Homo sapiens: one gene and its partners. The protein of the gene in region 3 purifies or fractionates together with the protein of the main gene of each other region. This does not show direct contact. Each region holds a gene or a part of one and is shown on either strand. Other genes may lie near its edges. The genes, in order: CTBP1, CTBP2, ZNF217 and EHMT2.

Region 1 (7,809 bases), on a different chromosome or scaffold from region 3:
GTTACCACGACCCAGTGCGGGGGAGAGCAGTGGGCTCCGGCCACTGCAGCTGACAATGGAGGACCCGGGGGTCCAGACACTCCCGGCACAGAGCTCTTACCCACAACTACCAACATCCAGCGACCACCAGAGGACCCTGGCGCTCCACCCGGCGCTCCGACCAGCGTTCCCTTGGGCGATGCAGTTCAACCACAGAACCCGTATGACACTGCCTGCTGCCTCTACCACCTCCTGGCCACCCCTGGGCCCTGGGCCAGGCCTGCACCGTCAGCACCACCTGGATGGAGCCCTCTCCAGCCCCCAGTGGAGTGGGAAACATTAAGTCCTTCTACAAGGAGAGTCAACCGGGGTAAACACCTCACAGGGCACACACCTTTGACTTGGGCACTGCATGGGGAGCACCAGGGCACAGCCGGGCACAAAGTGCTGCCTGAAGAGTTCTCAGCAACACTAGTGGTGCCAGCCACACGCCTCTTGGCTCAGTGACACCACCGTCAGCTCAGACCAGGTCACATTCTGGGGGTACTGGCCGCAGGAAGTTGAGAGGGCAAGTGACAGTCAGAGGAGAAAAACCAGAAAAACTGCCAGGCTGGTGGGGAACCAGGTGTGGCTTGACGGCCACCTCTAAGCCCCGAGGGAAGAGACTGGGCCTCTCGAGCCTGGGGCCCGTTTCCTGGAGAGCATGACTACTTCTGTCCAGGGTTCCTCCAGAAAAAATTTATTAACAGAATGATGGTTAACAGTTGCTGTCTGCTTACACTACAAATGTCCAAAGAGTGGGGGGCTCCCAGCCCTTGGGGGAGGCAGACAGGACGAGCCAGCACTTCCAATCCCACCAGGACATGGCAGGGGGCCGGCTCTGCGCCAAGCCCACAGGACTGGACCAAGGCTCGTCCCACTCATCAGAGGGACAGGACCAGCCCACAGTCCTGTGCACCCCGGGCCAAGCCTCTCCTCCCCCACTGCCACGTTCTCAGGTTAATGACAAGCGAGTAAAAGGGAAGATCCTACTCGCTGACATCCCCAACCACACGCCCACCTCTCAGAACTAACAGCTGCCCTGGTCAAGGCTGACAGGAAGAAGTGCATGTTGGGGACATGGCAGACACCCCAAAAATGGCCGGGCAGGCGGACGAGGCACCCCCAGGAGTGACCAGATGCCACCCCCAGTGCGTGTCCCTCCCAGAGCTCTGCAGAGGACGCCTGTATGGAAGCAGGTGCTCAAAGATGGGCAACAGAATCACAGAGAGCAAAAGGCGTCTGCGGAGCCGACAGCCCCAACCAGGAGCCAAACCCAGACCCCAGAGGGAGGTGGCCAGGCCCGGGCAGGCAGGGGAGACCTGGGAGGCCGGGTGCTGAGGCCCAGGGCAGAGCCACGCCCTACAAAGTTCCAGGACACAGAAAGGGGGACCCCCAAACCGCAGCTGTCATCCTCAGCTGCAACGGCAAATAGTTACCCCACGGTTCTCCCCCAACCCTGCCCCAAGCTGCAGACGGGTACACAGACGCGCAAAGGCCACGCGCTAGGAGCTCAGCGAGGACGGCCGCGGTGCGGGCCCAGCCGCCAGCGCCGTTTTCTTCCCGAGGGACGTGTGCTCCCTGCCGCGCTCCTACAGAAACGGTGGAGAGGCCGGGGAGGGGGGGGGGGCTCGGGCTCAACGGAACACCCTGCGCACCCGCCGCCTCGGCCCTAGCTCCAGGCCCTCTTGCCCCAACTCTCAGGGTTTCACCTCCCCACTCAGGGCACCGGGAAGGGCGCGACCGCCTTCCCTTTTCCCCACTGGAAGGGAATTCTGTCCCGGCAATCACGGAGACGACAGCAAAAGGGATCTGGCCCAGGCCGGGCTTCCAGACACCGGCGCCCTTGGAGGCCGCCAGAGAACGCTCCAGTCTCGGCCCGGGGCTCAGGCGCACGGACTCTGCCTTTGCAGCCGGGTCGAGGGAAAGAGAGGCTCCGCGCAGCGGCTCGGGCCGGCCCAGGACGCGGGCGCTGCAAGATGGCGATGGTGGCAAGCCCGGCGCCCGCCCGTGCTCCCTGCTTCCGCGGCCGCAGCCCGCGAGGAAGGCGCCCCGGGACCTGGGCGGGCCCAGGCAAGGGCAGGTGGGGGCGCTGGGCCGGTCCGGGACCTCGCGGAGTTCGCGGGAACGGAGACCCCGGGCCCTCCCGCGTCACCGCCGGGGGCTGCGCTTTGGGCCCGGTCTGAGGGCAGCGGCCTCCTCCACGGTCATACCCGGCACCCGCGCCCCGTCCCCTTCCCCCACAGCGCGCGGCCACGGTCGCCGGCGGCCTCCCCGCGGGAGGCGCGCTCCCGCGAGTGGCCCGGGAGCGCGCGCCCCAGGACACCCCGAGCTGCGCACGGCTCCCGCCCCATCCCGGCCCCGCAGGCCCAGCCACGGGGTCATGACCGGGGACGGGGTAGCGGCCGGGGATCGGGACCCGGGGTGCCGTCCCGGGTCCGACGGGGCTGGGGTCGGTGGAGCTGGGGGTCCGGCGGGGCAGCCCAGAGGCCCACAGGCCCTTTTGTGTCACCTGCACGGGCCGCGGGCGGGGAGAGCAGACTGCGGCGCTCGCGCACACGCAGCGGCCCGCGCATGCGCAAGACCCTTCCCGCGGTCCCGCCCCCGACCGCGGCCACGCGCGGACGCCGGCGCGCACGCGCACTCGCACACAAAGCCGGCGGCCCGCGGGCGCGCGCTCGGTCCGCCCCCGCGCCCCCCGCCCGCGCGGCACCCGCCCCGCCCCGCCCCCGCCCGCGGCCGGAAACGCGCGCGCGCGCGGCCTTACCAAGCGGCAGGCCCTTGTTGAGCAAGTGCGAGCTGCCCATCGAGAGGCGCGAGCGGCCGCGGGCCCCGACCACTCCGGCGCGCTGCGCCGCCGCGAGCCCGGCGCGTGGGGCGGCCTCGGCGCCGTCCGCTGCTCCGCCCGCCCGCCTGCGCCTGGCCGCCGCCGTGCCGAGTCTCCGCCGCGCCGCTGAGCCGCGCTCCGACGACCGCGCGGGCGGGGACACGGCGGCGCGCGCGGGCGGGGCCTCGCGGTTGGTCTCCTGGTTCCCAGCGCGGGCGGCGCACGGACTCACGCGGGCGGCTCAGGGCCCGCCCGGCCGGGACGCGGCTGCGGGGCGGGGCGGGGCGGGAGCCTGGCGGGAAGCTCGCGGGGCTGCAGCCCGGCGGAGGCCCCGGGCCTGGTGTTCCGCACGTTCTAAACCGCCTGTCCCCGAGGAAGTCGGGCAGGGTCGGGCCGGACTCAGCGCCGCTGGCGGGAGCGCCGTCCGCCCCGAGGACCCTGCGGGCCCGGAAGCCGAGACAGGGCCGCCCACGTCAGCGCCTGGCGCGGGCCCGAACGTAAATGGCGCTCCTCCGCGCCGCAGCCGCAGCCGCCCCGCTCCCTTCCCGCTCCGCCAGCTGCCGCCCTCCCGCGCTCGCTTCTCGCCCCGCGGCCTGGCCCGTGCGCCTCCGAGGCTGGCCAGGGGCACCGAGGCCGCGGGCCCCCCATCGCCCCCACCCGAGCCCTGATTTACCGTCCGAGAGCCGGCGGCACATGGGACCCCGAGAGGAGAAGCGCGCCTGCCCCAGTGCGTCCCCAGGCGGGGGAGCCCCGACTCCTGGAGGGACCGCGTCCTGCCCGGCCCGGGAAGTTCAGGGCTGGAGAACCCCTTCCCCGACCCCATTTCTCTTTTAACAAGAGTAGGGTTTGTAGCTAACCAACGTCCTGACAGCTCAGCTCTGCTTTCCCTTTAAGCATTAATATCAAAGCCCTGCCTGCTACCGGTGAAGCCCCGACCCGGGAGGGCCCGAAAGTCCCTTCAGGGAGAGGCCGCACTGGGCCTGCTCACCCAGGGGCTGCCCCTGCAGACTCTCCCGAGGGGCCCAGGGATATTCCTCGCGCCGCGAGTGGACGCTTCCATCCACCCCATGGGGAGGGCCTCTGCGCGTGGCTACTCTGAGCCCTCTGGAATGCCGAGATAGTTGCATAATTTCAGAAACCACGGCATGGAGACGGAATGATGCAGACTCCTATCCGCGAGATACCTGCTGTAATTTCGCTGTGGTTCGTGAGGACGCGTCCTGGGCTGCCCTGAGAAGCCTACGTCTCCCCTTCGAGGCCCGGGAAGACCTCCAACCCCGCTGACAATGCTGGGCCCTCAGCCAGACCTGCCCTGCGTGCCACGTTCTGTTCTAAGATCGGGCTGCCGAGCTGTGGCCTGGAGGAAACCTGGCAGGTGTCACCAGAGCTTTGGGGAGGGTGAGGCCCTGTCGGGGAAGCCCAGTGGGAGTCATGAAGGAGGGAACACGTGTGGAGCCCTTGTAGGGGGAGGGGCAGCCCTGCAGAGATCTAAGAAAAAATTCCAGAAAAATGAGCAGCAACCTCCAAGGCCAGGCATCGGTGCAGGGGACAAGGGGTCGTAGCTGGAGGGGCCTAGGTGAGGCTGCCGGGAAGGGACGATGTGGTTGGTGGAGTGCACAGGCAGGGACCTCACTGGACTTTCCTGTCTGCTCAGCATGGACAGGCAGCCCAGGAGAAGGCAGCACGTGGCCGGGTGCAGGGACGTACCACCCCCACTTCCCCAGGGGAGCTGGGGTCAGACGAGTCCCAGGCACTCCATCCTCTGCAGCAAGTCAGGTTGTGATTTACTAGGGGGTGGTGAATATAATGGAGAGACTTCTGGGGAGGAATTCCTGGCTCCCGCGTGGACTTGCAGAGCTCAACAGGCAGCCACGTGGCTGAGTGTCCAGCAAACATCACATAAGGCTTTGGGTCCTGCAGGTGGGGCTGCCATGAGCAGCAAGCTCAGTCCAGAAGAACAGTTCCTCTCCAGGATCCACTTCCTGCGCACTTTTATGTGCAGTGTAGCTGGAGCAGAGCTCCCCGGAATTCCACAGGCAACTGAGAACGGAGAGGGATGCAGGCCAGCCAGGGATCCAGCGTCTTCCCCATCGTCACTCTCCATGGCCTCCGTCTACACACAGTGTTCGTCTGCACAGCTTGTCAGCGCGTTATCATGACTTCTATTTGGCACCGGCCCGTCTGTCCACTGTCCTGGCTTGTTCCAAGCGCTGCCTTCTCCAACTGGGGTCCTGGCTGCAGAGCTGTCTGCTCCCCACGTTGGGCAACTCCAGCCAAGATTCCTACACCCAAATGTGACCGTGTTGCTCACGAAGAAGGCTCAGCTTTGCGTGTGCCCAGCCGTGTGCACAGCTCGTCCCAACTCCTGCGGGTGGCACCTGCCTCTCCCACCTCCAGTCTTTCCCCTGTGATGAGCAGATGACCACCGCCCTCCAGGGTCAGCGTTTGGCTGTTTGTGTGCCTGCCCACCCGCCTCCCTGTGCCTGGGCCTGCCCTGTGCCTGCACACAGGAGTGGCTCATGGCGTTTGCCCTACACGGATGGGCTGTCCTGGGAGCTACTGGACAGTCACCTTGGTGGGAATGCCAGAGGCATGGGCATTAGGTCCCCCCGGCCAGCCTCCGTTGCCACATGGGCTATTTTTGTCCATCGCGTGGGACAACCTAGTATTGGGGGAAAACTCAGTCCACTCTAAAGAAGCATCGGCGTTTTGGATGGACGAATGCTGCTTCATGCGACTCCATGTCAATGGACTATTTTATTCAACTCGGGTATTTATGAGTGTCTCCTCTGTGCCAGCCACGTGTGAAAGAAGAACTCCAAGTTACTGGACACCAGGACAAACCAGGTAGATCACTGCATCCGGTTCCTCCTCTTTCTGCCGACTCTCCCGGGCAACCGTTCTGATTCCTGGCATGGAGTTGGGGGCGAGCTCATCAGTACCCAGAGCGCCTGGTGTGCAGCCAAAGGCCCCCATTTTATTAGTCGGTGTGTTCAGTATCACGCTCAAGACAAGGGCCAACCTATTACTTCACACACCTCAAATACAAAAAGTGCCTGGGAACGTCGATGAGGTATTAAAGGAAACCACTGGTCTTGTCAGTCATGTACACACAGAAAAAAAAACCAGTCATTTTTATTTTTATTTTTTGAGACAGAGTTTCGCTCTTGTTGCCCAGGCTGGAGTGCAATGGTGCAATTTCAGCTCACTGCAATCTCTGCCACCCGGATTCAAGCAATTCTCCTGTCTCAGCCTCCCGAGTAGCTGGAATTGCAGACACCCATCACCACGCCCAGCTAATTTTATGTATTTTTAGTAGAGATGGGGTTTCACCATGTTGGTCAGGCTGGTCTTGAACTCCTGACCTCAGGTGATCCACCCACGTCAGGCTCCCAAAGTGCTGAGATTACAGGCATGAACCACTGTGCCCAGCCGAAAACAACCAAGAATTTTTTAACAATAAAATGACCAGCAAGTAAACTTGAAACAAAAATGGACAAATATCTAAAATATTTTTAAATGTATGTATTTTAATTGGCAAATAATACTTGTATATATTGTTTACAACTTGTTTTAAAGTATGAATACATTGTGGAATGGCTAAATCAAGTTAATTAACATGCATTAACTCACATACTTTTTGTTTTTTGGTGTGGTGAGGACACTTAACATCTACTCTCTTAGCAATTTTCCAGTCACCATGTCCTACTATAGATCCCTAGAACATATTCCTCCAATGTAACTGAAATGTATCCCTTGACCAACATCACTGCCCGGCCCCAGCCCCAGGTAAACACCATTCTACCCTCTGCTTCTGTGAGTTCAGCTTTTCTAGATTTCACCTGTGAGTGAGATTGTGCAGCATTTGTCTTTCTGTGCCTGGGTTTTTTCACATAATGCCCTTCTGGTTCATCTATATTGTCATATATGGTAGCATTGTCTTCCTTTGTAAGGCTGACTGGTATACCATTGCGTATATACACCACATTGTTTACCTAAAATATTTTTTAATACAATCGCTGAAAACTGCCACATAACTTGTATAACTGCTGTAAGGCTTGGTTTTCAGCCATAAGATGGGAAGAGAAGTAACATCTACCTTGCAGGATGACTGCAAGCTGTAAAATGCCACAAAGCGCAGGGGAGCCCAGAACCGCCGCAGCAGGACAGGTCCTCTGGAAGCAGACAGACCTGCCTTGTTACTTTAGCCATCCAGAGTCCAGTTTAGCCAGTGATGAAATGAGTACAAAAGAACACCTTTCTTGTAGGATTGCAAAATGATGTCTTCATCCATTCTGTGCTGCTATAGCAGACTCCTGCACACTGGGTAACTGACAGCTTACAGAAGCTTGTTGGCTTATGGTTCTGGAGGCTGGGAAGTCCAACCTCAAGGGGCTGCATCTGGTGAGGGCTTTCTTGTTGCATCATCACATCGCAGAATAGCAGAAGGGCAAGGAGAGAGAGAGAAAAGAGTGCTGAACCCACCCTTTGATAAGAAGCCCACTCCCATGATAATAGCACCAGCCCATTCAGGAGGGCAAAGCCCTCGTGGCTGCATCGCCTCTCAAAGGTTCCACCTCTCAAGATCATCACAATGACAATCAAACTTCATGAATTTTGGAGGGGACAATTATTCAAACCAGAACAGAGGGGGATGGCAAATGTTCTGAAAACAAGCCTAGAAATTGATCTTAGAAATGGTGCAAAAGTAGATTTCCCCTTCTGTCTTTACCTGTGATGGTCTAACCCCAAAAGCCTCCCAGAACAGAACTTGTGAGCACAAGATAGAAACAACAAACTTGATGCAGAGCTGAGCTCACAAGGAGGTCAGGGATGTGACAGGAACCAGAGACAAACAGAAGGCTGAAAACCAGGTCTTAAAGTGTGAGAGCCAAAGGGCAGCAGCCCAGGAGAGTGTTCGTCTGGAGCCCCGGGGTTTAAGTCTCCACACTCACATGGGAAAG
Region 2 (7,553 bases), on a different chromosome or scaffold from region 3:
CAGGGATGTAACTGGGGTCCCCTACCCCTGGGGCACAAAAAACCAATCAGCGCCATAAATTCCCTTTGCCTTCAACCCTCTCTCCCTTTTACAGGGGGGCAGGGTAGGGGGAGGGGGTGACCCAACATCAACACTTACACTCTACAGAAATATGCTGGCTTATTTCCTTTGTTTGCTCATGTTATACTTGATCAAGTGTGAACGATTAAACTGGTTTCATTAAAGGCAAGTGCATTCACGGCTAACATCCAACTTCAATGGCAACTGTAAGCATATTTTGCAAGAAAGAGGGCCTGTTTTTTTGCTTGAAATCTACCATCTCATTAACTTTTCTTTTGGGGGCAATAAAAAGGGCACTAGGGGTTTTTCAGGAGAATGTCAGAGCAGTTCAGAGATCTGATGCCAGACAAAAGAATATTTAGCGTTTCAACTCTACGATACAGTCTCTGCTAAAGAAAAAAATTCTGTTTCAACATTAAAGCAGCTATGACTGAAAATGTCTAATTAGCATTTTGACTATTACTTTATAATTGCTGTAAGAAGTATCCTTTGAAATCAAGTGATTACAAAAACAAGATCCTTTAAAGTCTCATTACTTCAAAATAGAAAAGATTTATATTTAAAAAAAAAGGGGGGGGTTAAAAACCTCAGAATTCTCAAAGTACATGAAAACTACCCACTTCTACTTGGAAAACCCTCGAGGCAAAACAGCAATCTTAGGTACTGAACACGAGGTAATTTTTAAACTGTCTTCGAACCCAAACACCTAGTAGAGAAAGCTATCTTTTTTGAAAGGGTGGTATGAGTCGATATATTTCGCCCAAGTTAGAAAGGCAGAAAGAATCACTTTGTAAACTTCCCCAAAATATAACGTCCCCTCAAAATTATCCATGTCAGATAAAAATATACCAGTCTCTAGAATATCCAACAGAATTGCAAATAAGGCGTTTAGCATTTTAAATTCCCAATGCATATTTATAGAATAGAATTCTCTTGTCTATCCTTCCAGCCACTCGCATCAGACTCTCTAAGAACTTAACCCGATCTCCAATCTTTAAAGAAAAAAGGGGGTAAATACACAGAAGGATTGTTTACCCCGGACAGGGCAAGGAAGCCCGGTATGACGACGTAGGCCATTGCCAGCAGCCTCCACCACGAGCACGCAGAGCGGGGATTTCTACGAAAAATTCCTCCTCTTCCCTATAAAATCCTAAACGTGGGGTCCTCTGCAGCCAACTGCCGCTTGGGCCGCCTCCGGAAAAAGTACCGGGCGGGGGGAGGGGGGACAACCACAAACACTCGCGCGCACACGCTCACTCCGTGTCCGCGACCGTCGTCGCCGGCGGAAAGCGAGCCACGGGAGGGAGTGTGTGCGCGCGTGTGTGTCTCGGCGCGGCCCGCGGTGACCGAGCTGAGCTCTTGGGCCCGCGGCCTCCGAGCCCCAGGGCGCGGCGTGGGCTGCAGGCGACCCGCCACGCCGCTGGGCCTCCCGCGGGAGAAAGGCCCAGGCACGCCCCGGCTCCCGCGCGCCTCTGCCCAACTCGCCCGGGGCGCTGGGGGCAGCGCGAGGGAGAGAAAGAAAGGCGCTTCCCCTCGGCCGCGCGGGGCCGTCCGGCGCCGCGGAGGGCTGGGAGGAGGAGGAACCGCGGCGGCCCGGCTGTCCCTGCGCCGCACCGGGTCCCTGCCGCCCGGGGCGCGCCCTAGCCAGCCCCTCCTGCTAAACTTTTTCTTTTTGATTCGCCCCACCCGAAAAGTGCGGCCCGGGCGGGGAAGGTGGGGGAGGCGGGCGGGCCGGGCTCCCGGCGGCGGCGGGCGAGGAGGAAGTGGTGCCCGCGGGAGCGCGGCCGGGCAGAGGAAATGCCCGGCCCGCCCGGCCCCCGCCCGCGCCCGCCGCCCGGCCCGCCCAGGCCCCCCGCCCCGCCGCGACTTTGGCGGGCCGAGCCCCGCGCGGCAGTGGCGGCGGCGGCAGCGGCAGCAGATGTGGCCCGGCTGCCCGGAGGAGCCAACAATGCGGGGCCGGCAAAACAAAAGGGTTCCACTTCGCCTCCTTTCCCGTCTTTCACTTGCGCTCCCGGGGAGCCGCGCGGGATCCCCCGCCGGCAGGGGCAGCGCCCCTGGGGACCGAGAGCCGCTCACGCCCCGACTTCCCCACGGAACCCCTCTTCTCCGCGCCCCCCCCACCCTCGCCTCGTAGGCGCAAGGCCCGCCGCACCCCGGCGCGCTCGGACTCCTGTTCCCCGGAGATCCGGCCGTATTGTCCCCGCGGCGCGTCGCGCGCTCGGCCTGGGTCGCCGGCGGCCCCCGGGCGCGCACCCACCGGGCTCAGGGAGCAGGAGCCGGGGGCGCCCAGGGAACCGTCGCCGAGACGCCGCCGCCGCCGCCGCCGCTGCCCTCCGGACGCCGCCGCGCTCGGGGTTTCTTTTTTTTTTTTTTTCAACCCTGATGGGAAGGAAGGTGACCGCCTACTTCGCATTCATCAACTCTCATCACAACAACAAAAATCCTGGCGCAAACGGCGGCCAGCGGGCGCAATCGGTGGCGGGGGCGGGCGGGGACCCCCGAGCCAGCGTCCACCCCCGGGCGCCGAGGGGGGACACGAGGCCGGGGGCACGGACCAAAGATGTCCTCGGATGCCGGCTCCGCGTCCTTCGCCCTCTTCCTCCTCCTCCTCCTCCTCCCTGAGTGGCGCAGTGAGGCGCGGGCGCGGCGCCCCCAGCCCGCGGCCGCAGGTGAGGCGGGGGCGGCGGCGGCCCCAGCCCTCCCCCGGGGCCCCCCTTACCTCGTCCCGGACGGTCGGCGTCCACGGCGAAAGGCGCCCACCCTGGAGGCGGCGGCGGCGGCGTCTCCCGCCCCTCCCACCCCACCCGGCGGCGGTGGCGGTGGCGGCGGCTGTGCGGCCCCCCCTCAGCGCGGCATGGCTCCCGGTTCGGTCCCTCGCTCCTCGGGCCGCCGCCGGCTCCTCCGGGCCGCTCCCGAGCCACCTTAAAATGACACACGCACACAGGGACACACACACAAAAACTTAATCTCTCCAGCTCCCCGCCCCTCCCCCTCCCGCCCTCCCCACCCTCCCTCCGCTCCCCTCCCCTCCCCACCCTACCCCTCCCTTCCCTTCCACCTCCTCCCCTCGCCGCCGAGCCTCTTCCTACTTCCCCACCCACCCCACCCCCTTCCTCCGCCCACCCGGTTCCCAATTCCCCCCGCGTCCCGGCCCCGCGCCCTCCCGCCCGCCGAGAGGGGGCTGCGCTGGGGGTCCCCGGCCCGGGCCCGCCCCGCGCCGCGCTCACCCCCGAGAGGATGCTAATTCCAACTTGGATCGGGGGAGGGAACGTCCTGGATGCCGAGCGCCTCCCGGCTATTTGCTCTTCTTTATTTGTTTTCTCCTCCGGGGAAGGAGAAGGAAAACGGAGAGAAAAGGAAAGGAAAGAAGCGGCGCTGGCCGCAGCTCCCGGTACCCGCTGGCTGCGCAGGAGCTAGGCGGGAGGCGAGGTGAGGGTCGCCGCTCGCTCACTCCTCGCTCCTGTTTTTGGGGGGGGGGGGCAAAGGCGGGGTCTCTTTTTGCAAACCAATGACACAACCCCACATGGGCCGGCCTCGCCCCCTTCAGATACTCCTCACTACAAATCGGCTCTCTCGGGGGATTAGTGGCTCCGCGAAAGTGCACACAAGCGCGGCGGGCGGGAGGGCCAGGGGCCGGGCGCGGCGGGCACTCCCTAGCCCGGCCCCGCCCGGGAGGCCCTCGGGAGGCGCGGGGGCCTCGGTGGCAGGGGCCGAGGTCCTGTCGCGGTGGCTCGGGGTCCGCTGCTCCCCTGGCCCTTCATCCTCCTCCGCCCCTTCCACGTGGGGTACCGGGCAGCCGGCCACGTGGGGGAACGCGAGCCCCGGGTGGCCCCGGTCCCATGGGGCCCCGCCCAGCCAGCGGCGCCAACCAGCCCCCTTCCCGGCCCCCGGGCTCCAACTTCCTCCTGGTGCCCCGCACCGGCCGCTTCTGCCTTCTCAGGCCCGCGGGGTCAGGCGCGGGCCGGCCACAGGGGGCACTTGCGCTCCCCAAATCCAGATCCGGGAGACCGTGCCGGAGAGGCGGCGACCGCTGTGGGTGCGCAGGGAAGGGCCCTCTGTGCTGCAAGTTGCAGCAGTGCTGTGCCCTAAAAGAAGCAAAACATTCTTACACATTGAAAAAAAAAAAAAAGGTTCCCTCTTGCTGCCTGGATCTCGCCGGGGCATTTGAGAAGCCCTGTGTTGGGTCGGAGCCCCGGGTCTCGAGGAGGGAGGCGCGCTGCGGCGTGGGGGCCCGCGACTCGGGGTCCTGGGCTTGCGCGGCGGCCCGGAGCCCACGCCGTCCTGACGTCTCAAGGTTGGAGTCTGCACAGCGAGCCTGGGAATCCAGGCCCAGCGGCCGCTCGCGGCCCAACGAGCACCTGGGCTAAATTCCCCGCCCGTGACCCGCGACGTCCGAGCGCCGTCTCCGGAAGGGAGCTGGTGGCCGTGGAGTGTGGGGTCTTCTCCCTGCGCCCCAGGGCCCCCCAAACTCTTCTCACTACCCTGAGTTCGGCGTGCGTCCTCCAAGAATCCCTGGGTGGGCTGAACTGAGCCCTTAGGATCGATTTGTTTAAAAACCCTATTGAGATATTAGGAGCTGGATTGAGATGTCGAGCAGGAAAGGAGTGGGAGGGGTCTGAGGTCCCGCCTTTGGAGGCCGCAGGGACCGCCATTCCGCGAACCCAGCCGCGCGGTGTGGTCTCCTCCATCCCTGAGTGCCCCGCGCCCTGCAGAGCCGAGGAAACTTACAGCCAGGGCCAGGGGGCCGGAGGAGAGGCCACCGAGCTGCACGACCCTTTTCTGCATCCCAAAGAGCGTTGCTCCAGGCCTCCCAGTCTTCATTAAACATTTCTTAAATCCTGCCCCAGCCCGCCGCGGGGCTTGTTTGCCAAAGCGCACCAGGTGCGTTGCGGCCTGAGCGGCCTGCAGTGGAGGGGCCGGGACTATCGAAGATTGCTTAATCACTCAACAAGATTTTAAAACGTGATTGAAGACCGCCTACCTGTGAGGGCAGCGCCGACCAGGCTTTTCTTGCCCGCTAGTCCACGTAATGCGGTCGCTAAGAAGCCCGCAGCAGGGTTTTCGCGTGACCTTCATAGGGCCTGGCCAGGCCAGCTGAGGGGCGCGCCGGGCTGCGCTTCCATCGAGGAACCTCCGCACATGCAATCACGGTTGTCTCGTCTTCTGGCAACCCTGGATCTCCACAAACTGATCTTCAGGGTGCTTCTCTCTTCAGCAGTTTTGCCTCAAGGGCATGGCGCCTCAGCTAGTTTTTGGCTGTAAACAAACCGCGGCCACCGCCAGGCTACCGGGTTACCAGTACCTGTTCTTCGGAGTTTCTTAGGCATAAACTATAAGAACTACAAATAAAGATTTTCTGCTTCCTTATTTCACAGAAGTCTTTGGTTCTGAGTGGTCTTCTTTTCTCAGGAAGAAACCACAAAAAGCCTGATTTTCCATATCACTCCTTCACTTTCACGTGTTCTATAAATTTGAATTCTGACTTAGAAAGTATTACTAACATGTTCTTGGCCGGGCACGGTGGCTCACGCCTGTTATCCCAGCACTTTGGGAGGCCAAGGCGGGGCAGAACACGAAGTCAGGAGATCAAGACCATCCTGGCCAACATGGTGAAACCCCGTCTCTACTAAAAAAAAAAAAATACAAAAATTAGCTAGGCCTGGTGGCGCATGCCTGTAATCCCAGCTACTCGGGAGGCTGAGGCAGCAGAATCGCTTGAACCAGGGAGGTGGAGGTTGCAGTGAGCCAAGATTGCACCACTGCATTCCAGCCTGGGCGACAGAGCGAAACTCCGTCTCAAGAAAAAAAAAAGAGAAAGTATAATTATTATTATTATTATTGAGACGGAGTCTCAGTCTGTCACCGGCTGGCGTGCAGTGGCGCGATCTCTGCTCACTGCAAGCTTCGCCCCCCGGGTTCAAGCCATTCTCCTGCCTCGGCCTCCCAAGTAGCTGGGACTACAGGCGCCCGCCACCATGCCCGGCTAATTTTTTTTTTTGTATTTTTAGTACAGACAGGGTTTCACCGTGTTAGCCAGGATGGTCTCTATCTCCTGACCTTGTGATCCGCCTGCCTTGGCCTCCCAAAGTGCTGGGATTACCGGCGTGAGCCACTGTGCCCGGCCGAGAAAGTATTATTAATATATTATTTGTTTTGAAGACATTAAAAGCAAGGCATCCTGAGAGCTGAAAAGTATTTCTCACTTCACTTTACCTGCATTTTAAAATATGGAGCTCATTTGCCCCCAACATGTGAATTATTTCATACTATTTTTTTTAAGATGTTGCAAACAAAAAACCCAATTCAAAAATGGCCAAAGACTCAATAGGCATTTCTCCAAGGAAGGTAGACAAATGGCCAACGGCCAGTAAGCACATGAAAAGATGGTTGGCCTCACTGGTCATTAGAGACATGCAAATCAAAACCACGATAAGTTACTACTTCATGTCCACCGGGATGTCTTTTATCAACAAAAGAGAAAAAAACGTGTATTGAGGAGGATGTGGAGAAATGGGAACCCTTGGACTGGCACAGTGGCTCATGCCTGTAATCCCAACACTTTGGGAGGCCAAGGTGGGCAGATCACCTGAGGTCGGGAGTTTGAGACCAGCCTGGTCAACACGGTGAAACTAAAAATACTAAAAATTAGCCAGGCGTGGTGCACGTGCCTGTATTTCCAGCTACTGGGGAGGCTGAGGTAGGAGAATCGCTTGAACCTGGGAGGCGGAGGTTGCAGTGAGCCAAGATCGCGCCATTGCACTCCAGCCTGGGCAACAAGAGTGAAACTCCATCAAAAAAAAAAAAAAAAAGTAGTGAAAGAAAAGAGAGATCCACAGCCCCAGTGTGGAGCGTTGAGTTTGTAAGGCACTTATTTTCTTCCGTCTGGCAGCCTTTAAACAGGATGGCATAATTCCTTCCCTACTTTATACCTCCTCGGGAGCACTTCTGATGTCTGTAGGAACCCAGGGGCTGAAAAAGGCCCGTGGGACCGGCCTGCGGCTGCATCACAGCCTGCCTCCCCCGCTACAATCAAAGACCTCTAACCGAGGTTCTTATTTCTCAGCTTCCTATCTTTCCTATTTCATTTCCAGGAACCAATGGTTGTAGAAAAAAAAGATAGTGGCCCTAGATAATGGTGGGTCCTTTTATCGGAACTGTTTTGTGCAATAAAATGGACTAGTTGTGTGCACTTGAGTATTTCAAGGGTCTGTGCAGCGAGAGTTACTGGGAGTTGGACTTAACTGTATTGTTACTCACCTATCTCTGTTATTCAGGGTTCAGCTCACTTCAGAACCGCAATTATCTGAAGCTCTCAGTTGCTGTCCTCAGTGGATGTGGGAATTTTGTTGCAATGTTTTATAGAATAACAGTGCTCTCTTTGGCTATAATATAATCACTATGTGATTCATAATTAATTCTAATCAGTGAATACATATTGCTTTTATAGATGCCATGGCCCTTTCCAACTATGCATTGAAAATCCTAGGCTCGGC
Region 3 (3,296 bases):
GTTTTTGTTTTTGAGATGGAGTCTCGCTCTGTTGCCCAGGCTGGAGTGCACTGGCGCAATCTCAGCTCACTGCAACCTTTGCCTCCCGGGTTCAAGTGATTTCTCATGCCTTAGCCTCTTGAGTAGCTGGGGCCACAGGTGTGCACCACCACACTCAGCTAATTTTTGTATTTTTAGTAAAGACGGGGTTTCGCCATGTTGGCCAGGCTGGTCTCAAACTCTTGGTTTCAAGTGATCCACCCGCCTTGGCCTTCCAAAGGGCTGGGATTACAGGCGTGAGCCACGTGCTGGCCTTAAAATTGTGTTTATAAGCCAGGCATGATGGCTCGATACTCGGGAGGCCGAGAGCTGGAGGATCAGTTGAGCCCAGGGGTTCAAGGCTGCAGTGAGCTGTGATTGCACCACTGCACTCCAGCCTGAGTGACAGAGCAGGAGCACATCTCAAAAAAAAAAAAAAGAAAGAAAACTAAAAAGTTAAATAAAACAAAATCAGAAACCAGAAACACAATAAACACTAAAACTCAAGATTGCAAAACACCAAATCTATATTTACACTTCCACATATAATAACATAACTTTAAGCTGAAATATATCATAAATAAAACAAGTAATGTCTACTGTTCGACAACTTAAGTATCAACAATTAAAATAAATCAAACTGGAATGAAATAAATACATAAACAAAAATCCAACGAATTGTACCTCTATTATATGTACTGTTGTCTCAAAGAAAAAAAAATATAAAACCAGTAGTATACCAATAGTTAATACTGATGGACACAAAAACATATTTTGAAGTACAAAGGGCTGTAGGAAAATAATTGGTATTTTTATACATTCAGAAATGTGGTTAAAAAGAGAAATCTGAAAGCCCAAAAAATTCCAGCATAATACAAATCGACTTGTTTTCAAATAGATTTGGTGATTCTTTTTTTTAAATACAGGTTTAAATTCCAGCCCTCTATTATCACATACCCCCTTTAAGATTTATGGTTCTAGTCACAGCAAGCTCTCTGTAACACTCATTGGATTAGGCAAAGATTGAGTCAATCATCTTGCAAATGTGTTAATCTTCAAAAATAGGCTATAAAAGTGCAAAACTATGAAAACAAAATCTAGATTATGTACATATGGCTCAGCTTGTGAACAGGAAAAAAGGTCAATAGTGTACACTTTCCTGATACAAAGCACTTCATTGCAATGCCAACAGACTGATCTCAAATGAGTTCTCCCTTGTAACACAGGAGCTAAGACTTCTATCAAGGAGGACATCTTACGTTGCATAATTTAAAAAAAAAAAATTTTTTCTAGGATTACCCTTGCTCTATGGAGAACAGCGAGGCCAGAAAAATGAACAGTGCAAATTTATTTTTGAAACAGTTTCTTAATAAAATATTTTGTGGTCACTAAGCCCATGTACTAATAAACTCAGCCATGGACAGCATATTAAAGAACAAAAGTTTAAAATATCTAGGAAGCCAGCTGGTGGCCATCTTCTCTAAAACCCAAATTGCATGTGCACTGAGAAAAATGTTACTGCTTCAAAACAACCAAAAATGGGAAAATAACTGAGGTCTAGAAACAGATTTTCTCTTTCTAGACTCCCAGCGGGCTCGGCCAGCAGTTCCTTATTCAAAATCAATGTGTCTATAATCAACTCTAGTATGTCCACAGTTCACCCAAATGCCAGATACATTAAGACTACCAAATACAAACCTAAAATGTTCCCCCCAAAATTTCCCTTAAAACTGTTCCCCAATACCTGCAATTCACAGATATAATTTAGCATTTTTGTTTTTATATACTAATTTAGGCAAAACCCCCCCGCCACTGAATCGTCCAACAAAAATGATTAATTTGACAGAAACAAATTTAAATAACTGCACATACAGTTTATGTTTATACAACGTGTGGCTGCTCTACAGAGAAAATGCTTGTCTGTAGACACACTCTCTTAAAAATCCTACAAGCCATCCCAACGCCCTCAGTCAAGGATCCTGGAGGTTCCAGGACAATCTGGAGAGGCGAGGAAGAAGGTGCCTTCCCCATCTGAGATGCTCAAAGTTGCGATAAAATGCTGCCAGCTTCCGAATGGCTGACCTCGATATCTGCAGCACATATCATAGAGGGTCAATACTTCCATTAACAATTTTAAGACAACAATAGATTTGGGTGGATTCAACATAATACAAAATCATTGACAGTTTAAAAAAAAAAAAACATACATTTTAAATGAAAGAGCACAATAGCAGAAACTGCTCCAAGTGATGAGCTGCATTAGAGAAAAGGAATACACACAGTATTTGAACAAGCAGGTTTACAACTTAGATATTTACAGATTTTTACCTGAGGTGCAAGCATTATATACTTTTCCCCCATCCCGCCCCACCCAACCCAAATGATTTCTTTTCAGCAGCGCTCAAGTATGCAAAAATTCCACTTCTTATTTGGTCAATTCTAAGAAAAATATTATTCAGGGACAAAATAGAGATTTCCAGTCCCCATGTATGTAAGTTCCAACTGTTCCAACTAGTTTGTATTGCTATTTGGTACAAAAGTTAACAGAACAACTTTACACAACTGTAGTGTTCCTTGCAGATTCCTCATATGTTTTATGTACAGTACAATCACAGCTTATTTCAGTAGCTTTCACCATTCGCTTCTCAAAGGATGAAGTAAAATTTAATTTCATGGGGAGTAAGCACTGACATCCACCAAGACCTAAGGAAAACAACATTTTTTAAATGATTAAGATCAAAACTGAATACAGTTTAGAAAATTCTTTCTTTAAAAAAGCGTAATACATAGAACCAAACTGACCTAGAAATGCAATGGGTTCTATTTGTTGTTGTTGTTTTTGAGACAGTCTCACTCTGTCGCCCAGGCTGGAGTGCAGCGGCACGATCTTGGCTCACTGCAACCTCTACCTCCCAGGTTCAAGCGATTCTCCTGCCTCAGCCTTCCAAGTAGCTGGGACTACAGGCATGCACCACCACGCCCGGCTAATTTTTTTGTATTTTTAGTAGAGAAGGGTTTCACCATGTTGGCCAGGCTGGTCTTGAACTCCTGACTTCAAGTGATCTGCCCGCCTTGGCCTCCCAAAGTGCTGCGATTACAGGCATGAGCCACTGCGCCTGGCCCTGGGTTCTATTTAAGTTCAACTTTTGCTATGAAAGTATTAGGAGAATGACTAACTAGATAATGCTGCGAACTTTGGAGCTACTTTTAGTAATTTAACTGAGATGACTTAACCAAGAATCAGAATTCAGTAAAAGGCAGTTGCCATGCACAAGAAA
Region 4 (8,014 bases), on a different chromosome or scaffold from region 3:
CTATTTTTTTTGAGTCTCGCTCTGTTGCCCAGGCTGAACCGCAGTGGCGCGATCTTGGCTCACTGCAAGTGATTCTCCTGCCTCAGCCTCTCGACTAGCTGGGATTACAGGCGCACGCCACCACACCTGGCTAATTTATTATTATTATTATTATTTTAGTTAGAGACGGGGTTTGGACATGTTTACCAGGCTGGTCTCGAACTCCTGACCTCAAGTGATTGCCGGCCTTGGCCTCTGAAAGTGTTGAGATTATAGGCAAGCCACGCCTGGCCTACTGTTAGGATTACGCTATTATGTTATTATTGTTGTTAATCTCTCACTGTACCTAATTTATAAATTCAATTTTCCTTTTCTTCCCTATTCTTTACAAAATGAATTGCAACTATAAAAATTAATGTTTATCATAGTGAGAAAGGAAAGGTAGCTCATAGCAACCTGTGCTATGTGAAGCAGGCAAAATTGATCAGGCTCAGCGAGAAGTCAGCATGGAACGGTTAGGGCCCATGCCTGGAGGCAACTGCTTAAAGGCATTTTGTACCTGACTAGGGTGCTGCTTCACCCATTATCTTCATGTGCCTAATATCTGTGAGACAAAGAACAATGTATAGCAGATCAATAGCTTGTTATTCTAATGTAAACTGGTAAACAATTTAGGAACTGCCTCTTCTTTTCCTTTGTTATTTCTTCAATCTTTTAAAAAATTTTTATCTTTTTTTTTTTCTTTTTGCGGCTCCTTCCAGAGCAGGGCTAACTCCTACGCAGTGTGCCCAGAGTCAGCCTGTTTTTTTTCAATATCTTCACGTCATCCAATCTTCTTTTCCTTTAAAAACCTACTTGTGGGCTGGTTGTGGTGGCTTGCACCTGTAATCCCAGCACTTTGCGAGGTCAAGGCAGGAAGATTGCTGAAGCCCAGCAGTTTGAGACCAGCCTGGGCAACATAGTGAAACTGTCTTCAAAAACAAAACAAAACAAACAAAAAAACCCCTACTTATAACTGCTGCTAATCAGAGTGTATTTTCACGGCAACTTGAATCTTTGCTCCTAAAGGCTGTCCTCAAAACCTGACCAAATATACTTTACTTAATGTTAAGTTTGCCTCAGTTTTTTCCTTTAGGTCAACAATAGGTATGACCCAAGAACCCTAGAACTTGGTCATAAAGCTTCTGGTGCCCTTGTCACTTCCCTCCTCTATTATTTCTGTGGCCCTCATCTCCTTTCCCACTGGGATTCCCAGGAAAAACTTTACAAATAGAGCAGTGACAGATGAGTTCCCCAAGGGCTTGCTTTGAGGTAGAAAGGAAGAGTGGTTTGAAATTCCCTTACCTTGTCATTATCATAAGAGTAATTAAGACATTAACTATATAATTGACTCTTTAACATCAAACTTTCACCACCCAAGAATGTAAACTGCAGGAAGAGAGGAACCTGTCTGTTGGTTCACAGATCAAGCACAGCCTAATATTTGACACACAGCAGCCCCTTGCTTAAATATGTGAATGAGTAAATGGAGTAGAAGCCTTAAGTGAAACTGTAAAAGAGCTCACCAAAGGTTTATGGTTGATTATCCCATCTCTCCCATCCCACTCACCTGTCCATTTCCTGGTTTGGACATGGTTTTGCGGGCTCGGTGGACCTTGGGCTGTCCCTCTGGGCTCGTGGTGGCTGGAGGGGGTTCAGACCCTGCTGCTGCAGCTCCCTGGGCTCCTGGCATACTCAGTAGCCTCATAGCCAAACTCTGGACAGATGGAGGTGATTTTCCCGCCCCTGTCATTGACATCTTGGCCCGGCTAGGACAGGAACCCCCCTTGCTGGGGGAAGAGGGGAATGACTTTGTGGCATGGCCTAGAAAACAGGCAAGCAAAAGGCAAGATAAGAAAGAAGGCAAGAGTCAGAAATTTCCCACCAACCCCCCAGGCTACCCAGCCTCTCACCCAGCAGGATCCGGCCCCCACGGAGGTCCCCATCTCCCTCAAGATTCTCAGATTCATCCCCAATGAGTGGTGTAGCCCCTACAGGGGTGTCAGCCCCCTCATCACCAACAGTGACAGTGACAGAGGCTGGAGATGAGGGGCCAGCAGGCTCCAGGGAGTCGGGGGTGGCCTTGGGCAGGGTTTCTTCACTACGAGGGGTGTCCCCCAAAGAGCCATGAACTGTAGAGGAAGAGAAAAAGTTCAGAGCTAAGGGCTCAGGAGATCCTGTGTTTAGGGAAGGTGACGGTCCAATTGGGGCCCGTTTTAGCTGCACTCACCTCTCTCGGTGGCTCCTCTGGTTTCCTTCTCCAGCAGCAGCGCCCCCATCTCAGCGGGGGCCTCCCCCTGGGAGGGGAGACAAGGGACAGGAGGGCTGGTCAGCCCAGTAGAGAGTTGGGGGGTCCAGGATGCCTGGGCCCTGGGAAGAGAGAGTAGGCTCCGGGGCCTACCTCTTCCTCTGTGGGGCCCCCCCCTTCCGCGGCCTCGGCTGCCCGGAGGGGCCGCACGACCCCTCCCCCGGGCCCGCATCAACCCCCTCCCTCTCGGTAGACCCCGCATCTCTGGGGCCGAGAGAAGAGGAGGGGGAGGGGGCGGGGCCTCCGCGCCCCGGCCCCGCCCCCTCCTCCCGGCTGCACGCGCCGCTCCCCCTTTGTCCCCCAGGCCGCGGGGACCCCGGGCACCAACCCCTCCAGCACCCGCTGCCCCCCAGCCCGGTGGACGGCCCCTCGTGCCCCTCACGCGTGCTCCTGGGGCCCCGGCGCCCGTCGCCCACTCAGGGGCAGCCGGCGGCTGCACGCGCGCCTCCGTGCCCACTCCCCCCACCTCCCACACCCTGGTCCCCTCATCCGCCCCCGGTGCTGGCCCCCTGGATTGCTGCAAGTCCCGCCCGGGCCCCCCGGCCCCGTTGCACCCCCGGAGCATTGCACGGGCGCGCGCTTCCCCCGGGCGCGCGCGCGGGCATGCACCCGCCTCTCCCCCTCCCCTTCCGCACCTCGGCGGCCGCCGCCGCTGCAGCTCCCGCCGCCGCCGCCATCGCCGCTTGCGCTGGGGGCCGAGCCGGCGCGCGGCCGCCCCGGGTCACGTGGGCGAGGGAGGGAGGGCGAGGAGGAGCCTTAAAGGAGCCGCTACATGCTTTTTGGCCATTTTCCCCTGAGAGCGGCCTCGGAGATGGCTGTGACTGTCCTAAGCTGGGAGCTGCAAGGGAGAATTCCTGTCATTCCTGGCCTCAGTTCTGCAGGGACCGAGGGCGAGACACGCCTGGGCCCAGGTGTGGCGTCTCTGTCCCCATCTGGTTTTAGGTAACAAGCGGAGCTTCTGAACTTCTCGGCTCTCGGCAGCGGCTGTATTTCCTCTGGCCTGGTTGGGCTTTTCCCGCCTCTGGTTGCTTTTCTGCCTTTCTAGTTTTTGGGTTACCAGATAGAAGGCTTGGCCTCAGTTTTGGCCTCGCCTTTTTGCTCTTTCTAACGAGCACGAAGGGGCGATAGGGACGCGGAGGACACCTTTATTCTTGGCTGGTTCTAGCATGCTGCTTCATGTCCCCTGGAGCAGCGTGCCCTTCTGAAAACCTGTGGCTAAATGTCTCTTCTGTTTATATCAGGCGTGTTACACCTTCACACGCACTAGGGATCCAGGTAAGCCCAGCGGCCCGAACGTCATTACTGACTGGTGACACTGCAGTAAGTAAACCTTTTTTGCCGAACACTTCATAAGCACAGTCAGGTACTCCGTGGGTCATAGCCCAGCGGACAATTTAAGTATAAATGATATACACCAAGATAGACAATCTCGATAGCTGTATTTAGGGTACCATCCCTTTAGGTATTACGTTTTGGTCGAGTTTGGAAAAGATCTGTATGATTTCACACGCAGTATTTGACACAGGCAGGTGGGGCACCTGAGGCCAATTAAAGGCCTTCTGGGAACTGTAGTTCTCTTTGGTTAACTATTCCAGAGCTTTCTGGGAATTGTAGTTTTCCCTGCACCTTAATCCAAACTTAGCTTTTTTTTTTTTTTTTTAGCTTTCCTGAAGACATGACCTATTTACCCCAGACAAAATATGACCAAACAGACTCCTGCTTACAATTTCCGTGGGCAGGTTGGCCACCTGTAGCTCATCCCTAGCACTGATCCTAAGTCCCTCAAATAGAGTTCATGTGCATCCCCACGACTGCCAATCACTTGTACTGTGAGGTACCTGGCTAAGTGTTGAGATTGCAGAACTGGTGGAGGGCTGGGGGTGGGGACTTGGGGGAGTCCCTGACCAGAGGAGCTCACTTGTCACACTCCTCTCCCATGTTTAGGGCTGGGCTCCTTCAGGCAAGGGATATGCAGAGTTGTGACCTCTAGGTATTAAGAACGCAGCATCACAGGGAGAGGCTGTCTAGGGCAGGATAGTCATGTACACGCAGTTGCCAGAGTGTAAAGGAAAAAAAAAAGTTTTTTTTTGTTTTTTATTTTGTGGAAAACAAAAGCAGAAAAACTAAAACCCCAAACTCCAGAAAAAATCCTAAAAAATATGTTTTTTCTTAAAAAATACTGTATGTCTCTACTCCTCTCCCTCCCTCCCAACAGCCCTTCTTGTGTTCTTTCTTTTCTAAGTGCCCTATCCCCCCCACCCCCATGACTATCCATTGTTTCTTGCTATTGTACCCCCACTTCCCAATATCTACCCAGGATGCGCACCCCACGTTCTCTTACCTGGCGTCTTACTTTGTTCTCCCTCAAATTTCAGCAAGCCTCATACTCGCAGTCTCATTTCCCCAGCATGCAAGAACTGTCTCCCACTTCCTTTTCTGGGACTCAGTAATCTTTTCCCCTTACCACTCCCTCACCCCAGGTCTATTCTAAGCAGGAGCATGTCCTCCTGCCAAATTCCCTCCCTGTTCCCACCCACCCCCCAACCCTTCTTATCTCGAGAAATGTCAGAACCTTCCCCTGGGCAGCCTTAGCCAGGAATAAAACATTTTTGTCTTCCCTCATTCTATAGGACCCTTTTCCCTCCCTCCACATATACATGCACTTCTAAGAGAAGGAAATCTTTCTCTGGGACCCCGTATTCCCCTGGCCTCCAAGAACCCTTTTCCCAGCTCCAGATTCTTGCACTCTCAAGAGCAAGTCTCTCCAAGGAATCATCTTCCCTCTCTCAGGATGTGTGCATCTGCTCAGCCTCCCACTCTTACCTTTCTGCCCCAGACCCCCCACCCCCCAATTCTCCTGGGCCAAAGAGCCCTTTTTCCACGCAGCCCAGGGGCCCCAGCCTCCTGGCCTCCACGCCTGCGCGGCTAGCGGATGAGGACGTTAATCTCGGCCACACTGGCCTCCAGCACGTTCTCGGCCGTGGTCTTGCCGTGTTGCTCCTTGAGGTGCCGCCTAATGGCAGGCTTGTGGGCGAAGCGCACGTCGCAGTAGGAGCAGCGGTAGGGCCGCGCTCCCGAGTGCAGGTTGAGGTGGTCGTGAAGGGTGGACTTCTGTGTGAAGCACTTGCCGCAGATGCCGCACGAGTGTGACTTGACACCACGATGCACGTTCATGTGGCGGTTGAGGTTGCTGCTGTGGTTGAACTGCTTGCCACAGCGAGGGCACATGAAGATGAAGTGCTGCGCCCGCATGTGGAAGACCAGCTTCTCCACGCCCTGGAACACTTCCGGGCACTTGGTGCACTTGATGTTCTTTAAGGGGTTTCCACCTGAGAAGCCCCCAGGCAGGGGTCCCCGGCTGCCCCCCGCCCCCAGGCTGCCCCCCGCCCCCCGGGCAGCCATGGCCACCGCTGCTGCTTCCACCAGGCCCGAGGTGGCCCCCACGCTGGCCCGGCCTCCGGGAATCAACAGCAGGCCCTCCCCTTCTGCATCTTCCGACAGGCTATAGCAGGCCTTCACCACACCCTGCGGTGGGGCTACAGTGCTGGGGGGAACGCTGCTCTGGGCCAGCTCCCCAAGGTGGCCACCCACGGAGCCTCCAATGCCCAGACCCCCTCCCAGGCCTCCAGGGGGTTTGAGCCGGTGTGCCACCTCCAGGGCCGACTCCACCTTGACGATGCAGATGTCAGACACGTCCTCATCCTCATCCTCATCCTCTTCCTCGGCTTTCAGCTCCAAGTCTTCATCCAGTGGGAACTCCAGCTTCACTGGCCGCAGGAGTGGAGGGGGTAGAGGAGGTGGGGGTGGGGGCTTCGGGGCTGGCTTTGGGGTCCTGGCTGGAGGGAGGAGGGACTTGGTGGCGCTGATGCTGCTCACAAGGCTAGCCTCACTGACCCCATCCTCTTTGAGGCCTATTTTGGGCTCAATGAACTGGCTGAGGGCATTCCGGCATTTCTCCACCACGTGCTCCATCTGCAGGTAGGAGGCGGCTGTAAGGTAGTTGACGATGTCCCTAACAGCGAATTCCAAGGCGCCCGTGTAGCAGGAGAGGAGCAAGTCGGCCACGATGCGTGCACTGTGCATCAGGGAGACCTGCAGCTCCGAGCTGGGGTTCAGCAGGAACTGGTCCCGCAGGAAGGGTGAGCAGGCGGCCAAGATGACCTTGTGGCCTCGAAACTTGAGGCTGTCGGCCACAATGGTCACGTCGCAGAACCGCTCCTCTGCCCGGAGCTGGTTCATGTTCCGTAGCGTTGCGGCCTCGTGGCCGGGCAGCTGGAAGCGCAGGACTTCCACCCCAGAGGCCATTGTGGCGGGGGTGGGCAACCCTGGTTGGGAAGGAAACCGGTCAGAGACAAAGGTCTCTGGCTCTCCGAAGCCAAGGCTCCAGGACCCTCGCCCCCATTCTTGCCCAGCCCCCCGGCATCCGATCTCCCGGTCTTCAGATTTCTTCCTCAGTTTCCCCAACCCTGGGGAGGTGCTGTCCCTCTGAGAGGAGGGAGGCGTGGTTCTCGGGGGCGGGGCAGCGGCGTCCACACCCCCCAGCCCAGCAGCCCGCTAGGATGGGGCGAGCCCGCGCGCCCACGGTGGAAGGACGGAGAAAAAGGGGGGCCAGAGGCCTGGGGCTCTGGACTCCAAGGTGGCCCCGGTTGCAGGCTCTTCTCACCCCGCCCCCTTTACCGGCTGCCTCATTCCTCCGCCCCCCCCTTACACGTTTGCACGCGCTTTTCACGTCCTCCCCCCCGCCGCCAGCACGCACCGTGCACGCCCTGCCCCCACGCTCAGAGCTCCGTGGCACGCCCCCCCAGCCCCACGACCCTGAGTGCACGCTCCTCTCACCTGGCCCGGTTCCGCGCGCTGTTTTTTTAATCCCTTATTTTCCCCACCCCCCCCCGGGGCCGGCAGCGACCCCCACACACGGGCAGGGCCTGGGCAGCGCGCAGGCGCGGGGATGCACGGGACGCGCGCGCGCGCGGGGCCGGCTCCGCGTGGGCGTAAGGGGGGAGGGGCGGGGGCGGCTCGTGCCGTGTGTTCCAGGCCCCGCGCGCGCGGCGGCGGCGGCGTCGGCTAGGACTCGGGGAGGAGGAAGAGGGGAGGGAATTAAAGGAGCAGGATCCCCCCTTCCCGACCCCCCTTTCTTCACCAGCACCCCCACGCGGTTAAAGGGCCGGACGGCCTTGCCTCCTCTTTGGCCGGGATTATTTGTCCGCCAGAGCGGAAATACGTTCCACACCCCCCTCTTTCTCGCTCCCCCTCCTCTGTACCTCCAAGCCCCGCGGCCAGTTTGCGCGTGCGTGCCAAGTGCCGCGCGGAGGCCCGCTCACTCGGGCCCGCCCCCCAATCCCGGCTGCCCATGGCGCTACTCGCTCCGCGTCCCCGCGCCCCGCCCGCGCCGCATCCCGCAGCGCGCGCGCGCACCCGTTCTCTCGGCTGCGGGCGCTGCCACCTGCTCCCAGGGGTGGTGCGTCTCCGGTCCAGCTGTGCCGAGCGCTGCCCTGGGTGCATCCGTGGCACCTCTCAGGGCCCCATCCGCCCCGTGGCTAACAGAGCTGTTGGTAGCTATTACCCACGCCTGCCTCCTCTGCTGAGTGTGCTCACAGTTGCTCCAGACACATTCCCAGGCTTTTCCAACTCTTGTAAAGCTAGTAACCGCCTCAGCCCTTCAGGCCTGAAATATGATTTCACTTTCCA

The links.
Region 1: the proteins of ZNF217 (region 3) and CTBP1 purify together in Homo sapiens (affinity purification with mass spectrometry; 12 studies listed by BioGRID and IntAct, with this or other methods). This does not show direct contact.
Region 2: the proteins of ZNF217 (region 3) and CTBP2 purify together in Homo sapiens (affinity purification with mass spectrometry; 7 studies listed by BioGRID and IntAct, with this or other methods). This does not show direct contact.
Region 4: the proteins of ZNF217 (region 3) and EHMT2 purify together in Homo sapiens (affinity purification with mass spectrometry; 2 studies listed by BioGRID, with this or other methods). This does not show direct contact.

The regions. Positions count from the first base shown.
Region 1 is NC_000004.12:1,246,131-1,253,939, forward strand, and holds the start of CTBP1 (C-terminal-binding protein 1), read right to left. Parts: upstream 3,001-7,809; 5' UTR 2,826-3,000; coding exon of another isoform or gene 2,786-2,825; intron 2,599-2,785; exon of another isoform or gene 2,078-2,598; intron 1-2,077. UniProt on the Homo sapiens protein: Corepressor targeting diverse transcription regulators such as GLIS2 or BCL6. Has dehydrogenase activity. Involved in controlling the equilibrium between tubular and stacked structures in the Golgi complex.
Region 2 is NC_000010.11:125,157,540-125,165,092, forward strand, and holds the start of CTBP2 (C-terminal-binding protein 2), read right to left. Parts: upstream 3,025-7,553; 5' UTR 2,780-3,024; intron 2,419-2,779; exon of another isoform or gene 2,318-2,418; intron 1,239-2,317; exon of another isoform or gene 1,096-1,238; intron 1-1,095. UniProt on the Homo sapiens protein: Corepressor targeting diverse transcription regulators. Functions in brown adipose tissue (BAT) differentiation. Isoform 2 probably acts as a scaffold for specialized synapses.
Region 3 is NC_000020.11:53,566,544-53,569,839, forward strand, and holds the end of ZNF217 (zinc finger protein 217), read right to left. Parts: intron 2,722-3,296; coding exon of another isoform or gene 2,573-2,721; 3' UTR 528-2,572; downstream 1-527.
Region 4 is NC_000006.12:31,894,675-31,902,688, forward strand, and holds the start of EHMT2 (histone-lysine N-methyltransferase EHMT2), read right to left. Parts: upstream 3,025-8,014; 5' UTR 3,004-3,024; coding exon 2,962-3,003; exon of another isoform or gene 2,892-2,961; coding exon of another isoform or gene 2,316-2,891; coding exon 2,249-2,315; intron 2,151-2,248; coding exon 1,932-2,150; intron 1,843-1,931; coding exon 1,589-1,842; intron 1-1,588. Other genes in the region: ZBTB12 (zinc finger and BTB domain-containing protein 12), read right to left, coding at 5,252-6,631. UniProt on the Homo sapiens protein: Histone methyltransferase that specifically mono- and dimethylates 'Lys-9' of histone H3 (H3K9me1 and H3K9me2, respectively) in euchromatin.